Homo sapiens: one gene and its partners. The protein of the gene in region 1 purifies or fractionates together with the protein of each later gene. This does not show direct contact. Each region holds a gene or a part of one and is shown in the gene's direction. Other genes may lie near its edges. The genes, in order: CNN1, MTHFD1L and MTHFD1.

Region 1 (3,650 bases):
AGTGGGTGGTTTTCTGGACTCATTAAAAGGCAGAGCCAAAGAACTTTGGAGGGACTGGACATGAGGCTGAGAGAAGGAGAAAGGGGGAGTTGGGGGCAAGTCCAAGGGCTCTGGCTGAGCACCTAGAAGGGGGCACTGCTAGGCAGGGAAGGTGGAGGGAGGGGGGAGTCTGGAGGGGGAAGCTGCATGTCAGGAGTCTGGAGCAGGGTGAGTTTGATTTGAGACACCCAGGCACCCATGGAGAGAGCTGAATGAGATGGTAAGAAACCCAAGCTGCAGGGAGATGAGGGAGTTGCTGGCATATGGAGGCACTTAAAGTCAAGACACTGAATGAGGCCAGGTGCTGTCACTCATGCCTGTAATCCCAGCGCTTTGGGAGGCTGAGGCAGGAGGATCGCTTGAGCCCAGGAGTTCAAGACCAGCTTGGGCAATACAAATACAGTGAAACCCCCTCTCTACCAAAAAAAAAAAAAAAAAAAAAGCCAGGCATGGTGGTGCGCACCTGTGATCCCAGCTACTCGGAAGGCTGAGGTGGGAGGATCGCTGGAGCCTGGGAAGTTGAGGCTGCAGTGAGCTGTGATTGCACCACTGCTCTCCAGCCTGGGCGACAAAGCCACACCCTGCATCAAAAAGAAAAAAAAAAGAAAAGAAAAGAAAAAAGAGGCGAGATCATTAAAGGAGTGAGTCAGAGAAGAGGCCCTTGTGGGCTTCCTGCTGTCTACAAGAGAAAAGGATGCTGAGACACGCCTGCCAGTGAGGCTTCGGAGATCCCAGAGACTCGGACACACCTTGGATAAGCAGGCTTTCTGACTGGGACCTGAGTCTAGCTCCTTGGCATCAGTGTCCCATTTGTGTGTGTGCTTGGGTGGTTTGGAGGGGCTGCAGCTGAGAGCTGACTGCAGGGAGAAGTGACGCTAGGGTATGGCATGGCCCCTTGTGGTCATCCCGTCACCCTCCTCCTGCTGGGCTGGGCTGGAGAGCGGGAGTGGGGGACACCTTTCTTTCTTTTTTTTTTTTTTTTGAGACGGAGTCTCGCTCTGTCCCCAAGCTGGAATGCAGTGCTGCAATCTCAGCTCACTGCAACCTCCGCCTCCTGGGTTCAAGTGATTGCCTCAGCCTCCTGAGTAGCTGGGAGTACAGGCATGTGCCACCACGCCTGGCTAATTTTTGTATTTTTAGTAGAGATGGGGTTTCACCATGTTGGCCAGGATAGTCTCGCTCTCCTGACCTCGTGATCCACCCGCCTTGGCCTCCCAAAGTGCTGGGATTACAGGCGTGAGCCACCGTGCCCAACCCTGGGGGGACACCTTTCTTACCCCTTCCCCACTCTTCTCAGATTCATCAATAAGCTGCAGCCAGGCTCCGTGAAGAAGATCAATGAGTCAACCCAAAATTGGCACCAGGTGAGCCCAGACACAATCTCTTCCATCCTTGCCCGCAAGCCCCTCAGACCTCCCCTCCCCACCCAGTGACCACCACCTGCCCCCCTCTAGCTGGAGAACATCGGCAACTTCATCAAGGCCATCACCAAGTATGGGGTGAAGCCCCACGACATTTTTGAGGCCAACGACCTGTTTGAGAACACCAACCATACACAGGTGCAGTCCACCCTCCTGGCTTTGGCCAGCATGGTGAGTGTGGTTGCAGGCTGGGCAGGGGGTGGTGGGCAGCCTGGGCTGGGATGCAGGTGTGGCCACTTGTGCTCCTGAGCCCAGTGAAGGTGGCGGAGCGGGGGGCAGGGATCGGGGAGCAGGTGCTGTCAACAGCGTCCAAGGGGGCCGGGCGCGGTCGCTCACACCTGTAATCCCAGCACTTTGGGAGGCCAAGGTGAGCGGATTGCTTGAGGCCGGGAGTTTGAGACCAGTCTGGCCAACATGGTGAAATCCCGTCTCTACTAAAAATACAAAAATTAGCTGGACGTGGTGACGCATGCCTGTAATCCCAGCTACTCAGGAGGCTGAGGCAGGAGAATCGCTTGAACCCGGGAGGCGGAGTCTGCAGTGAGCCGAGATCGTGCCACTGCCCAGCCTGGGTGACAGAGCCAAGACTCCGTCTCAAAAAAAAAAAAACAAAAAACAAAAAACAGTGTTGGCCGGGCACGGTGGCTCACGCCTGTAATCCCAGCACTTTGGGAGGCCGAGACAGGTGGATCACAAGGTCAGGAGATTGAGACCATCCTGGCTAACATGGTGAAACCCTGTCTCTACTAAAACTACAAAACAAAATTAGCCGGGCATGGTGGCAGGCGCTTGTAGTCCCAGCTACTAGGGAGACTGATGCAGGAGAATGGTGTGAAGCCGGGAGGCGGAGCTTGCAGTGAGCTGAGATCACGCCACTGCACTCCAGCCTGGGCAACAGAGCGAGACTCTGTGTCAACAACAACAAAAAAACAGTGTCCAAGGGGACTGTGCAGCCTGGAGGCCCCCTTGTCAGTCCCTGCTTTCCCTGCCCCACCTAGGCGAAGACGAAAGGAAACAAGGTGAACGTGGGAGTGAAGTACGCAGAGAAGCAGGAGCGGAAATTCGAGCCGGGGAAGCTAAGAGAAGGGCGGAACATCATTGGGCTGCAGGTACCGCCCTGTCCTCACTGCGCAGAGGTCATAGAGGCCAGGAGGGCACCCTGATGTCTGAAGGCTTTTGGGGACAGGATATTTGGCATTAACTATACTATAGGCCGGGTACTGTGCTTATGCTCATCTTCCATTCACAAACTCACTCACTCTGCCAACACCCCAGCAGACAGGTGCTTGTTATCAACATACCCTTTCCGCAGATGAGAAAACTGAGACCCGGAGAAGCTGGCTCGCTTTTGCACAGATCTTCCAGCTGATGCGTGGCAGGCTGGAACTTCAATGCTAGAAGTCAGTCATGTGATAGGCCCACTCTGGGCCTCAGTTTCCAGTCTCGAAAGGATGCCTCAGGCGGGGTGCAGTGGCTCACACCTGTAATTCCAGCACTTGGGGAGGCTGAGGCAGGAGGATTGCTTGAGGTCAGGTGTTTCAGACCAGCCTGGGCAAAATAGAACCCCCCTCCACCGCCATCTCTACAACAAATTTAAGAGTTTAGCCAAATGCAGTGGTGTCTGCCTGTGGTCCCAGCTACTTAGGAGGCTGAAGTGGGAGAATCACTTGAGCCCAGGAGTTCAAGGTTACAATGATTGCATCACTGGACTCCAGCCTGGGCGACAGAGTGAGACCCTGTCTCTAAAAATGAAAATGGGCTGGGTATGGTGGCTCATGCCAGTAATCCTAGCACTTCGGGAGGCCGAGGCAGGCGGATCACTTAAAGTCAAGAGTTCAAGGCCAGCCTGGCCAACGTGGTGAAACCCTGTCACTACCAAAAATACAAAAACTAGCCGGTGTGGTGGGGCACACCTGTAGTCCCAGCTACTCAGGAGGCTGAGGCAGGAGAATTGCTTGAACTCAGGAGGCAGAGGTTGCAGTGGGCCAAGATTGTGCCGCTGCACTCCAACCTGGGCGACAGAGTGAGATGCTATCTCAAATAAAATAAAATAAAACAAAAAAATAGAATAGAACAAAATAAAATATAAAAATAAACTAAAAAATGGGCCAGGCACAGTGGCTCACCCCTGTAATCCCAGCACTTTGGGAGGGTGAGGTGGGTGGATCACCTGAGGTCAGGAGTTCGAGA
Region 2 (3,650 bases), on another chromosome or scaffold:
TATTATGCTTTACACCAAGTTTCCAACAAGGAGCAAAACAACAACAAACTATAACAGATGCATTTTCATGAATCCACTTTTTATATAAAGCTTCCTTTGTTGGGTCTCATTTTCACAAAACTAATTTTTATTTTGTTTTTTTGTTTTCTCTTTAGATTATAGATGAAATCTTAAAGATCAATGAAGATACCAGAGTACATGGCCTTGCCCTTCAGATCTCTGAGAACTTGTTTAGCAACAAAGTCCTCAATGCCTTGAAACCAGAAAAAGATGTGGATGGGTAAGAAAATAAAATCAAATAATCAACCTTTATGGCTAAATCACTTTTTCTATTGTGCCTGCTTTTATTTTTCTAAATTTCTTCTATTTATTTCAACTGTGTCAGTAATTGGATAAAAAAATCATTTTAAATATTTCAGGAGTCTATAGGATTTTTTTTTTTTTGAGATGGAGTCTCGCTCTGTTGCCCAGGCTAGAGTGCAGTGGCGTGATCTTGGCTCACCACAACCTCCATCTCCTGGGTTCAAGCGATTTTCCTGCCTCAGCCTCCTGAGTAGCTGGGATTACAGGCATGCGCTACCATGCCTGGCTAATTTTTGTATTTTTAGTAGAGACGGGGTTTTACCATGTTGGCCAGGATGGTGTCTATCTCCTGACCTTGTGATCCACTCACCTCAGCCTCCCAAAATGTTGGGATTACAGGCGTGAGCCACCGTGTCTGGCCATCTGTAGCCTTTTAAAATTCTGCATGCAAAAGTTACATATTTTGGAAAATACATTAGCCCTTTTATAGTGCTTCAATGCCATATGATCTTACACCATCAGATTCATTTAATAAATTCCGGTCTGACTTATACAATCTTTAGCCAGCTCTATTCTTCTAATAGTTTTTTCCTTGGTAATTCTACCAGACCAGAGAAGAAAACTTAGAAACCTGATTCCCCAGCAGTACCATATTCTGTCTTAGTCCCAGGCCAGTTGAGAAAAGCAAAATAAATACTTTTCTTAATGACACAAGGTTTTATTTGAAATTTGGAGGGGAACATCATAACTATTGGGTGCTGTAATGTTGGCCTGTGATTCATGTCATGGAGTGACATAAGCTTCATAGAACAAAGGATACCGGCCGTCTCCAGTGGGGGATAAGCATGCTTCCTGGGGATTAAAACCCCATTTTCCTCCATGGAAATATAGGAAGTGTTTTGTACTGTGGCCAAAAAGAACACAATGTGTTAATGGTTATAGGTTGTAAGCAGATTTATAAAGTTAGATTCCAGATCCGGTAGACCCTGCAGGGGCTGGATGGGGAGGCTACCACCTTCCTGAGACACCCAGCAATCTTCCATTCTAGCCTTTTATTGTGACTTGAGTAGACCCAAACACAGGCTGAAAAGGTGTCATGAACACCTCCAGTCCTGGCTGGGCACAGTGGCTCACACCTGTAATCCTAGCACTTTGGGAGGCCAAGGCAGGAGGATCTCTTGATCTCAGGAGGTCAAGACCAGCCTGGACAACATAGTGAGACCTCATCTCTATTTTTTTTTTTTTTTTTTGAGACAGAGTCTCACTCTGTTGCCCAGGCTGGAGTGCAGTGACACGATCTCGGCTCACTGCAAGCTCTGCCTCCTGGGTTCACACCATTCTCCTGCCTCAGCCTCCCGAGTAGCTGGGACTACAGGTGCCCACCACCACACCTGGCTAATTTTTGTACTTTTAGTAGAGACGAGGTTTCACCGTGTTAGCCAGGATGGTCTCGATCTCCTGACCTCGTGACCCGCCTGCCTCGGCCTCCCAAAGTGCTGGGATTACAGGAGTGAGCCACCGCGCCTGGCCCCTTGTCTCTATTTTTAAGTAAATAATTAAACATTTTTTTAAAAAACGACAATCTCCAGTCCTGTCGTAGACTAACTGTAAAAGGAGAAGAAGCACTAATCCATGAGAAAACTTTCAGAACTTGAAGGTCCTAGGGCATAGTTTCAAGTCTTTCATAAAAGGAGGGGAATTCATGCTGAGGCCCAGCCAGGAAAAACCAACCAAACAAAAACAACAGAGAGTAAAAGGAGAAATTACGAAAATGGTTCTAAATGTCTCCATTCTGTTACTGAGATTGACGTGCTCAGTTTAGGCTAGATAGCTGTGGAATGTTTTGTCCTAGATTTGAACAGGGAAAGGCACAGAACCCTTCAGAAGTGTGTGGTCACTCATTTTTTCCACTGCCCCCCACCCCGACTTCTCAAGGAGATAAATATCGAGGTCAAGTTGAAATCAGACCTGTGACCTGTGCCTCAATCCCAGGTCTTACTGGGTCACTCCAGATTTATAGGATTGGTTCTGGGTTTTGAGTGGACTGCAGGACCATGCTTCTGTGTAACTCTAGGGATGCTAGTCCATTGGGGTCCATTGAAAGGAGCTCCCTGGAGTTGCGAAGTGAAGCCCTGTATGGCTTTAGGCTGTGTCCTGGTATATTGGCAGAACCGGAACACCCAATGTCAGGGCCAGGGTGAAGTTTCCTAAGGTACTGCCTTAGAATTTTCTAAGACCTTTATTGAATGGCCTTTATTGCCTGCTTTCTCTTTAATTCATTTTTTATGGGTTTTTTTTTTTTTTTGAGATGGAGTCTCGCTCTGTTGCCCAGGCTGGAGTGCAGTGGCATGATCTCAACTCACTGCAACCTCTGCCTCCCAGGTTCAAGCGATCCTCCTGCCTCAGCCCCCTAGTAGCTGGGATTACAGGCACGTGCCATCACGCCCAGCTACCTTTTGTATTTTTAGTGGAGTTGAGGTTTCGCCATGTTGGCCAGGCTAGTCTCGAGCTCCTGACCTCATGTGATCCACCCGCCTCAGCCTCCCAAAATGCTGGGATTACAGGCGTGAGCCACCATGCCTGGTCCTCTTTAATTCATTTTTATGTATTCTGTCTATCAAACATTGACTTGGATGTTATTTGGGGTTAATATATGTACATTACACGTGAGTGATTTTTTTGGCTGGGCTTTGACTTAACCTACTTCTTTATTTTCTGATTCAGAGTAACAGACATAAACCTGGGGAAGCTGGTGCGAGGGGATGCCCATGAATGTTTTGTTTCACCTGTTGCCAAAGCTGTAATTGAACTTCTTGAAAAATCAGGTAGGATGCTCCTTGAGAAATGCCGCTGATTTCTATTTATTGGTATTTACATTATTTTTAATAAGGATTTGTTTGGGGAAGAATTAAAAATTTTTTTAAATTATTATTCTGATATCCTTTTAGGATGTTTCTAGAAGATTCTAATTGAACATAGAAGTGATATTTCACGTTGACTTTTTTTATTTTTCTCATCTTTTGGGAGATACAGATGAATACCTAGAAACTTTTTCTAGTAAGACCATCTTATAAATTAAAAGAGAAATTAGTAGAGATAAACGATTAGCCCTGTTTTAAACATGCTCAATTTCTCTCATGAAACAGTCAAAATAACCACAGTAAAATATGCTTCCAGTTTCAGCTTACTAAATCTATCAATATGTAGCCTTAGATAAGACTTACGTTGAAGACTTAAATGAGGCCAGGCACAGCGGCTCATGCCTATAATCTCAGTGCTAGGCGAGGCCAAGGCCAGAGGATCACTTCAGGCCAGGAGTTCGAGACCAGCCTGGGCAAACATACTGA
Region 3 (3,650 bases), on another chromosome or scaffold:
ACTCATTCTTCAGAACATATAAGGGTGAAATGATGACCAACACCTCCTTGCTTGTTAGTCATGTCTGTAAAAGAAATGGTTCAATATCTCAAGTTGTCTTGCCATTTACCTGCTTTTAATGTCTGTTTTGCAGATTGGGATCAAAGCCACTCACATTAAGTTACCAAGAACAACCACAGAATCTGAGGTGAGCTTTTATGAGTTGATTGTGAAGAGGGAAGGTGAAGTGGTTTCCTCTCTGGTTTTGGTTTACGGGGGCTTTGGGGACTGACACATTTAGCCAAGACCTCCAGGTATTTTTTTTTTTTTTTTTTTTGAGACACAGTTTTGCTCATGTCACCCAGGCTGGAGAGCAATGATGCGATCTCGACTCTCTGCAACCTCCGCCTCCCAGGTTCAAGCAATTCTCCTGCCTCAGCCTCCCGAGTAGCTGGGATTACAGGCGCCCACCGCCTCACCTGGCTAATTTTTATATTTTTAATAGAGACGCGGTTTCACCACGTTGGCCAGGCTGGTCTTGAACTCCTGACCTGAGGTGATTTACCCGCCTTGGCCTCCCAAAGTGCTGGGATTACAGGCGTGAGCCACCACGCCTGGCACCTCCAGGTATTCTTTCTTCACAGACTCCCACAGAGGAGATGGTGCAGGGATGAACATTTGGTACTCAAAGTGTGACTGCAGTACTGTTTGCTTCCAAATCATCTGTTGTGTTTGTTAAAACTGATCCTTGGAGCCAGGCACGGTGGCTCATGCCTGTAATCCCAGCATTTTGGGAGGCCGAGGTGGGCAGATCACCTGAGGTCGGGAGTTCGAGACCAGCCTGGCCAACATGGAGAAACCCTGTCTCTACTAAAAAATACAAAATTTGCCAGGCGTGGTGGCGCATGCCTGTAATCCCAGCTACTTGGAAGGTTGAGGCAGGAGAATCACTTGAACCCGGGAGGCGGAGGTTGCAGTGAGCCAAGATCGTACCATTGCACTCCAACCTGGGAAAAAAGAGCAAAACTCCGTCTCAAAAAAATAGGTAAAACCGATCCTTGGCCTGTAATTATCTGCATTCTAAAAACCAAATATGTATTCCTTTTATATGAGGTTCAGGACTAGGCAGAACAAATCAGCGGTGATTAAAGTCAGAACTGTGGTTGCCTGTAGGTGGGAGATTAATGCTAAACTGTAGGAGGATAAAGCAACTTTCTTGAGGTTATGGCAATGTTCCATATATGCGCTGTCCAGTATGGGAGCCACTAGCCCCATGAGGCTATTTGAATTTAGTTAAAATGAAATAAAATTAAAAATTCACTTCCTTGGTTGTACTAGCCACTTTGCAAGGATTAAGTAGCTGCTATTGTATTGTAAGGTGCAAATTATAGAAAATTTCTGCCATCGCAGAAAAGATGATTGGACATTGCTGCTCTACATCTTGATTTGGATGATTGTAACATGGGTATTATTGCTGTAATAAGTTATTAGAGTTCTTAGCTCTTTTTATTTTATTGTATTGTATTTTTAGAGACAGGGTCTCACTCTTTTGCCTCAGCTGCAGCACAGTGGTGTGATCATAGCTCATTGTAGCCTCAACCTCCTAAGCTCAAGTGATCCTCCCACCTTAGCCTCTTGAGCAGCTGGGACTATAGGCATGAGCCACCATGCCCAGCTAATTTTATTTTATTTTTGAGGCAGAGTTTTACTCTTGTCGCCCAGGCTAGAGTGCAGTGGTGCAATATTGGCTCACTGCAACCTCCACCTCCCAGGTTCAAGCGATTCTCATGCCTCAGCCTCCTGAGTAGCTGTGACTACAGGCATGCGCCACCACGCCCAGCTAATTTTTGTATTTTTAATTGCCCATATTGCCCAGGCTGGTCTCAAACTACTGACCTCAAGTGATCTGCCCACTCAAGCCTCCCAAAGTGCTGGGATTACAGGCGTGAGCCACCGCACCTGTCCCCGCTTTTTTTTTTTTTTTTTTTTTTTTGAGACAGAGTCTTGCTCTGTTGCCCAGGCTGGATGCAGTGGCATGATCTCAGCTCACTGCAGCCTCCGCTTCCTGGGTTCAAGCGATTCTCATGCCTCAGCCTCCTGAGAGGCTGAGATTACAGGCATGCGCCACTATGCCCGGCTTATTTTTTATATTTTTGTAGAGACAGGGTTTCACCATGTTGGCCAGGCTGGTTTCAAACTCCTGGCTTCAAGTGATCCAGTAGCTGCTATTGTATTGTAAGGTGCAAATTATAGAAAATAATTTTCTATATTTTGGGAGGCCTGCCTTGGCTTCCCAAAGTGCTGGGATGACAGGTGTGAGCCACCACACCCAGCCCTAATTTTTTTTTTTTTTTTTTGAGGTGGAGTTTCACTATTGTTGCCCAGGCTGGAGTGCAATGGCACAATCTCAACTCACTGCTGGAGTGCAGTGGCACTATCTCAGCGGACTGCAACCTCCACCTCCCAGGTTCAAGCAATTCTCCTGCCTCAGCCTCCCGAGTAGCTAGGATTACAGGCATGTGCCACCACACCTGGCTAATTTTGTATTTTTAGTAGAGACAGGGTTTCACTATGTTGGCCCAGCTGGTCTCAAACTCCCAACCTCAGGTGATCCACCCACCTCAGCCTCCCAAAGTGCTGGAATTACAGTCGTGAACCACCGCACCCAGCCCCTGGCCCTAATTTTTAAAAAGTTTTTGTAGATATCACATTTCACTGTGTTGTCCAGGCTGGTCTTGAACTCCTGGGTTCAAGTAATCCTCCTGACTTGGCCTCCCAAAGTGCTGGGATTACAGGCATGAGACACCTCGCCCAGCCTCTTAGCTCTTTTATTTGATGGACTTCTTACCAGACACCTAGGGGATGCATTCTATGTTAAAGTACAGGTGCTCTCAGGATTCAAGGGGAAGGTACATTCTGAAAGGACTATAATTAAAGTGTTGGGGGGAAATAGGGCAACCTAATTTTTGCCTTAGAAAGTGTTTCTTCCTACCTTTTGATTTCTGTGTGATATACAAATTATATATGGTATTACTTTTAGGTGATGAAGTACATTACATCTTTGAATGAAGACTCTACTGTACATGGGTTCTTAGTGCAGCTACCTTTAGATTCAGAGAATTCCATTAACACTGAAGAAGTGATCAATGCTATTGCACCCGAGAAGGATGTGGATGGGTAAGTGTGGCTTGGCTTCCTATGTCTCATTGCATGCTTTCATTTATAATATGTTTCTATTTGGGGAATACAGCATAAATGTTTCTAAAGAGTAAAGACATCTAATTGCCTTTATTTCCTTCTTATTTCCATCACTTTTTTAAGATTGACTAGCATCAATGCTGGGAAACTTGCTAGAGGTGACCTCAATGACTGTTTCATTCCTTGTACGCCTAAGGGATGCTTGGAACTCATCAAAGAGACAGGTAAAAACAACAAACCAAACAACAAGAAAGCACCATTTCCTGAATCCTGGTCTTGACATGTGGTGGCATAGAGGAGGTACATTGTGGGCCATAAATAAATGGACTTGATTGGCAGAAGGGCCTGTCTACTAAGGATGTTACCTAAATTTTCTCTCAATTTTCTCAGCAACTCTGTGAAGTAGGTACTGTTATTGTTCAACTGCTAAGAAAATAGGCTCAGGCCAGGCACAGCGGCTCATGCCTGTTATC

What was found.
Region 2: the proteins of CNN1 (region 1) and MTHFD1L fractionate together in Homo sapiens (co-fractionation; one large-scale study listed by BioGRID). This does not show direct contact.
Region 3: the proteins of CNN1 (region 1) and MTHFD1 fractionate together in Homo sapiens (co-fractionation; one large-scale study listed by BioGRID). This does not show direct contact.

Annotation. Positions count from the first base shown.
Region 1 is NC_000019.10:11,545,339-11,548,988, forward strand, and holds part of CNN1 (calponin-1), read left to right. Parts: intron 1-1,336; coding exon 1,337-1,403; intron 1,404-1,493; coding exon 1,494-1,631; intron 1,632-2,458; coding exon 2,459-2,569; intron 2,570-3,650. UniProt on the Homo sapiens protein: Thin filament-associated protein that is implicated in the regulation and modulation of smooth muscle contraction. It is capable of binding to actin, calmodulin and tropomyosin. The interaction of calponin with actin inhibits the actomyosin Mg-ATPase activity.
Region 2 is NC_000006.12:150,882,607-150,886,256, forward strand, and holds part of MTHFD1L (monofunctional C1-tetrahydrofolate synthase, mitochondrial isoform 2 precursor), read left to right. Parts: intron 1-155; coding exon 156-280; intron 281-3,027; coding exon 3,028-3,128; intron 3,129-3,650. UniProt on the Homo sapiens protein: May provide the missing metabolic reaction required to link the mitochondria and the cytoplasm in the mammalian model of one-carbon folate metabolism complementing thus the enzymatic activities of MTHFD2.
Region 3 is NC_000014.9:64,412,339-64,415,988, forward strand, and holds part of MTHFD1 (C-1-tetrahydrofolate synthase, cytoplasmic), read left to right. Parts: intron 1-133; coding exon 134-187; intron 188-3,019; coding exon 3,020-3,156; intron 3,157-3,300; coding exon 3,301-3,401; intron 3,402-3,650. UniProt on the Homo sapiens protein: Trifunctional enzyme that catalyzes the interconversion of three forms of one-carbon-substituted tetrahydrofolate: (6R)-5,10-methylene-5,6,7,8-tetrahydrofolate, 5,10-methenyltetrahydrofolate and (6S)-10-formyltetrahydrofolate.